Linked DNA regions of Homo sapiens: region 2 is reported to be linked to region 1. Evidence: microRNA targets listed by miRTarBase, many of them from high-throughput screens and not tested one by one. Region 1 holds a microRNA gene; the other region holds the end of a gene's coding sequence.

Evidence for each region. Region 1 holds the annotated microRNA hsa-miR-7110-3p (UCUCUCUCCCACUUCCCUGCAG, at 1,340-1,361, shown strand). A microRNA usually pairs through its seed, bases 2 to 8, with sites in the 3' UTR of a target mRNA and lowers its output. Matches are read on the target gene's strand: a 7mer-m8 pairs with bases 2 to 8, a 7mer-A1 pairs with bases 2 to 7 and ends in A, and an 8mer does both.
Region 2: the mRNA of RHOH is a reported target of hsa-miR-7110-3p. Seed matches in the 3' UTR shown: 7mer-A1 at 2,743-2,749.

What each region holds. Positions count from the first base shown.
Region 1 is chr3:123,160,519-123,163,632 of GRCh38, forward strand. It overlaps MIR7110 (microRNA 7110), which reads left to right and starts at 1,276; the gene lies at 1,276-1,361. PDIA5 (protein disulfide isomerase family A member 5) reads left to right here. Exons shown (of 17, transcript NM_006810.4): 16 at 803-937; 17 at 1,362-1,586. The coding sequence ends at 1,442.
Region 2 is chr4:40,243,531-40,246,644 of GRCh38, forward strand. RHOH (ras homolog family member H) reads left to right here. Exons shown (of 3, transcript NM_004310.5): 3 at 1-3,114. The coding sequence ends at 432. Among named protein-coding and RNA genes, the nearest start is that of RHOH, 48 kb to the left of the region's middle.

The sequences.
Region 1 (3,114 bases):
CATACAGAGCGCCTTTGCCCCACTCACCTGGCACCTGGACCACCTCCCTCATCCCTCACATCACATCATGTTGGAATTGTCCCTTTATCCAACCCCTGCCCAGACACTGAGCCCCTAAGTGGGGACAGAGCTTGTATATGGGGTTGGAAGAAGTGACTGTAATAGCAGCTGACATTTCCTGACCATGAATCTGGTGCCAGGTTCTGTGCTCACTGGCCTCACTGGAATTCTCTTATTCAGTCTTCACAATATCCTGATAGCCTAGATACTATTATTATCCCCATTTTACAGCTGAAAAAAATGAGGCACCAAGAGGCTGAGTTATTTTCCTTAAGTCTTACTGTCCAGGCAAACCAAGAGTGCACTTGGGGAACTTGACTTGAAAGCTCTTGCCCTTAACCTTGGCACTATACTGTCCCCCCAAGCTAATGTTCCGGAAATATTAGTGGAGAAATGATTAAATCCTACAGTCCCTTACAGATAGCACCACAGAACCTGTGGTGTTTACAAATGCTTTCAAGTCATCATTTCCTTTACGATCATCATACTCTTGATTTTAAAGGACAGTCTAAAGGCACTCCAGGCCGAGTCCCCTAACCTTACCCATCTGGAAATTGAAAACAAGCACCATCAGTCTCCAAGGAGTCCTGAGCTGGGGGTGCTTTGGTTCAGTTCCTACCTGCCACTGAGGAGAAAAATCAGAGTGGGCCTGTGACGTGGACTAGATGTGCAATCTGTGTTGTGGGGTCCAGGCCTCAGCCTGGGGACACCCTGTGCCAACTCTCTTTACCTTGGCTCCTAGATTGCCTGTGCCGCTGTTGACTGTGTCAAAGACAAGAACCAAGACCTGTGCCAGCAGGAGGCGGTCAAGGGCTACCCCACTTTCCACTACTACCACTATGGGAAGTTCGCAGAAAAGTATGACAGCGACCGCACAGTAAGTGGGGGAGAGGCGTCTGCCCAGAGCTCTCTCTCTGCTGATGGGCAGGGAAACTTCCACTGAGGAGGGGCAGCACTGGGCAGCATCCCAGAAACTGCAGAAGTCAGCTGGAACACTGCACCGAGAGGCCCAGGCCCTGGGCCTGGCTGAGGCTTGACATTGTTGGAGGAGAGTCCCAAGGGGTTGCCACAGATGTCCTGTCCCCAGAGGCAGGCTGGACTCCAGATGCCGAGGGTTTTCTCACTTGCTGGTCGGGGCTGGTGCAAGCCACGCAGACCCTCTCCACCTTGCAGAAGTCTGCCCACCTCTCCCTGTCATAGGAGTGACCCCCTGGAGGGGCTGGGGGTGTGGGGAGAGAGAGTGCACAGCCAGCTCAGGGATTAAAGCTCTTTCTCTCTCTCTCTCTCCCACTTCCCTGCAGGAATTGGGATTTACCAATTATATTCGAGCCCTCCGGGAGGGAGACCATGAAAGACTAGGGAAAAAGAAGGAAGAGTTATAATTCCTGCCTCAGAAAAAGCTTTTCCATTACACTGTGAATGATACCTGTTTTGTTGTTTCTGAATTTCCACATGTTCTGAAGACAAATTTTTTATAGCCGCTTATGGCCATTTTGTACAATTTTGAAATAAAATTAAACCATTTATTTGGTGGTATGGTTTATTTTCGTGGAGCCTGTACTAAAAAAGGTGGATACTCACATCCTCCTCATTCCACCACCTCTGCTGGGAGGTACAGAGCAGTGCTCCAGTGCCCCATCTGCATGGAGGTGACTCCTGAGGGTGTCGGCCCCCTGTCAGTCATTTGAGAGCAGAACAGGGAAACTGGACCGCAGAATATCCTGCTGGAAAATGACAAGCTAATGAGAGGAAATACGTCAAGATGATCAATGACTTTGGGAGGCTGAGGTGGGAGGATCACTTGAAGCCAGGTGTTCAAGACCAGCCTGGGAAACATTATGAGACCTCATGTCTACAGAAAATAAAGTTGCTGGGCATAGGGGTACATGCCTATAGTCCCAGCTACTTGTAAGGCTGGGAAGGGAAGATTTCTTGAGCCCAGGAGTTCAAGGCTGCAATGATCTATGATCGCATGACTACTCCAGCCTAGCTAGAAAGCAAGACCTGTCTCAAAAATAGAAAAAGAAAAAGAAAGAAAAAAACAAAAGATGATCAGGGAAATTGGGATGCTGAAGCAAATGGTAACCAAACACTAGCTTCTTCTGGATCATTGCGGTTTCAGCATTGGTGTGTTTCCTCTGTGTGTGTTTTCCTGGAACTTACTTAGGTATTTATCTTTCTCCAGCTATTTGTCTTCTCTTCGTCTCTCCATTCCCTCCCCAATCTCCCTTTAAAGAAAATTAAGTTGCCGCTTCAGGGGCATGAATGGAGTGGGGGAAGGGGGGCTCTGTGCCAGCTGCTTGCTGTGCACCCTGGCTGGAAGGGATGGTGTGTTCTCGAGGTGCAGATATTAGATCTGCTCACCAGCCCCCACCACCAACCATAATAACCCCAAATCTTTACGCCACGTTTTCCATGGATGGGTGCCTTGCTCGGCCTCCTGCCTGTGTACATCTCCTTTTTGACCCACCTTTCTGGTGAGTCCTCCTGCTTTCTGCATTCCTGCGTGACTGACACCCCAGCCCTGTGCCCAGCGGTGCAGGCAGAGCCTGAGCACAGCAGTAACATGTTTTGTCTGCTTGGTGGTATTTCTCCATGGACAGCAGAGTGGCCTTGTGCTAGTATCTTGTCTTTAGTTATAAGTAGCGGTCCTAGAGTTGGATTCCTCCAGTAGTTCAGGGGGGCGTTGCTTAAGCTGCAGTACTTGGAAGCACGCTCTGGTGGCCTTGATGGGGACTTGGCCTGCAGGAACAGCCCTCCTTTCCTGGACCCAGCTCCCTTCCTCCTGGCCTAAGTCCTTCCTGCTGATGAATCTGCTGAGAGGAGGACAGAGCCTCCAAGTTCTTCACAGCTGTTTTGACGATGGTGCCACTGTGGGTGGTTTCATTAAGGGAAATCAAGGTTTTGAGAGCCCTTGTTCTGTGCAGTTCTCCAACTTTCCAATTGACCCTCCTGCCAGTTCAGCTCTTCTCTTTTCCCCTAAGCACCCACTTCCTTGGCAGTGGCCCCTGGACTTCACCCAAGGATTGGATATGAAAGACAGAAGCATACATT
Region 2 (3,114 bases), not on the chromosome of region 1:
GGCATCCAGATCAGCCTGGGCCTCTGGGACACAGCCGGCAATGACGCCTTCAGAAGCATCCGGCCCCTGTCCTACCAGCAGGCAGACGTGGTGCTGATGTGCTACTCTGTGGCCAACCATAACTCATTCCTGAACTTGAAGAACAAGTGGATTGGTGAAATTAGGAGCAACTTGCCCTGTACCCCTGTGCTGGTGGTGGCCACCCAGACTGACCAGCGGGAGATGGGGCCCCACAGGGCCTCCTGCGTCAATGCCATGGAAGGGAAGAAACTGGCCCAGGATGTCAGAGCCAAGGGCTACCTGGAGTGCTCAGCCCTTAGCAATCGGGGAGTACAGCAGGTGTTTGAGTGCGCCGTCCGAACTGCCGTCAACCAGGCCAGGAGACGAAACAGAAGGAGGCTCTTCTCCATCAATGAGTGCAAGATCTTCTAAACCCCAAGAGACTTCACACAACACTTATGTATGCACCCCAAAGACTAATGGGGAGAGGGAGGGCCGGGAAGCCAGGAAAGCTTGGTGTTTTCTCTGGGTACACCCCAAGCAGCGTCTCCTTTTGGATACAGTTATTGATGAGGCTTGGCCACTGGATGTTTTCACTAACTACACTCTACAAGTGAACTCCTTGCCCAGGCCAGTTAGAAAATCCCTTGGGGAACTGTGATGAATATTCCATCTTTGATTAAAAAAGTGAAATAGTCTCCATAATTTTGGACGATGAAGTGAGTTTTTCAAAGAATTCCATATTTAAAGACACATTTTATTTAACTAATAACAAAATGTATTGCTTTTGTATATATTTAGTTTTCACACTTGGAAAATCTTTTCCTACATCCTCGAAAACATAAACTCCTCTGTGAGTGAAATGCTTGTACGAAGCTCTGCCATATGTTTGTAGTGTTATTATTTTCACCTCAAGTAGAAAGTCTGTTGAAACCACTTGGCTGCTGGATTTAAATGGGTAATCAAATTTAAAAATGACCATAAATGAATCTTTGCAATTTGTTTTCTACTTACCTGTTATTCACAGTTGGATATAAAATACAGTTCCATAAGATATCCTAATACTGCCTAATGATTTTAAAGTTATCACTATATTTTTCTGAAATGATAAAACATCATTCATTTATTTACTATATTGTCTTTCACTCAACTCCAGTTATGCACTAAATATTCTCCTCTCATTCACCAAGATTGATTGAAACACCATCTTTCAGGTAGAGAATCAGACTGCTCCAAGCAATGGCAACAGAACTTGGAACAGAAGCAAGAGAGTGTCACTTTCACTTCTGGTAGGGTGGTTCCCAGGCGACTGCAGGTCCTGTGAAAGACAGGGGTCTCAAAGTTCTGTTAATTTCACAAATTTGTTATAAATTTGTCTAAACTGAGCTGTTGTGGCAACATAATTTATGAATCGTAAGGTCTAGTTAGGCTTATTGGGGGGATATCTACATATATATGTGTATGTAAGGGAAAAAAGGTAGAATTTACAGCCTTCAAAAAAGAAAAATCAAATTCCAAGCACAGGAATAAGAAAGCTATATAGCAACTGCTCAGAGAACAGAAAGTTATCAGGGGAAATACTGAATAAATAGACACACACATACTCGCACACAACCTGCTCTCACACACACAACTCAAACCTCATTCTATCGAATAGTTTAAAAGCAATGGTGTTGCTCATCTGTTAAAGTGGAGAACAGAGGACTACATAACTTAAGGTAGAAATTGCAAAGGCTGGGTTGGGCAGGGCGTGGTGGCTCACTTTGGGAGGCTGAGACGGGTGGATCACGAGGCCAGGAGTTCAAGACCAGCCTGGCCAACATGGTGAAACCCCGTCTCTTCTAAATATTAGCTAAAAATTAGCTGGGTGTGGTGGCACATGCCTGTAGTTCTAGCTACTCAAGAGGCTGAGGCAAAAGAATTGCTCGAACCTGGGAGGCGGAGGTTGCAGTAAGCCAAGATCGCGCCACTGCACTCCAGCCTGGGCAACAGAGGGAGACTCCATCTCAAAAAAAAAAAAAAGAAAAGAAAAAAAAGAAAGAAATTGCAAAGGCTGGCACCTAGATAGATCAATCAATTACTGCCCTAATCAAAACTTAGAAACACTCTGAACCACCTTTATGAAGGTACATCATTGTTATGGGGTAACGTGACTATTACACACAAAAGGTAAGGTGGCTGGCATAAATGACTTTGATTAGAATTATGTTGACATAGCCAAACCAGTTTCTCTGTTCCCTTGTGTGGTCAATTCCTTACAGCTATAATCAGTATCAAAAACCAAATGTGTGCTCATTCACACATTGCTTTCTCCTTCTCTCTCTCCTCCTATCCACAGCCAGTAAAAGGCCTGGGACCGGGGTCTTGATCTCTGGTGGGAGGATTGCCTCGGTTCCCTGGGGCTGACACAGCTGCCTTCACTCAGACTTCTCTGCTCTCCAGGCGGTGGCTTGTACTCACCTCTAAGTCACCCGCCTCCCTTGATTGGAGAGCCCGTGTCTCTAGTTCTCAGCTCAGGGTTGGGGGGCTTGAAAGATGACCGGGCAGGGGAGGGGAAGGGATCTCATATCCTCTGATATCCCTGGGATTCTCTTCTTCTCCCTCAACCCACAGAGTCTTAAATCACGGATGCGGGTGTTCAGGGCCAGCCTTTGCCATGAGAGGTATTTAACATGTCAGTGGGAAGGAATTTCTATTCACTGCAGTGGGCTGTCCCCCAGGCTTTTCTTTCTCTCTTGTTGAAGAGAGATGGGGGTGGGTATCTGAAAGTGGGAAGGGCCACCATACATGATCCTAAGTGAAGGAAGAGGAGGTGGTTCCACGGTGGCAGCAGAGCAGGAAGGGAAGGCCAGAGAGGGCACACTCAAATGGCTTTGCTGTCACCTGGGCAAAGACACACAGGTGAGACCTCCACCTGTTGGCGGGAGCCAAGCTTAACAGCTCCGTCTGGGAACTCTCATACCTGAGACCAGGAATCTATGTGTAAACCCTTTCCAGTGGCAGAATCTGGCAGAAATGGAGCCGATAAGTGTCTGTCTTCCTGCTAGACTGCTGTTCTTGAAGGTAGCACTGCCTCCTGGTCTCCTCAGTGTCCCCAGGGCTCAGCACAGGGAA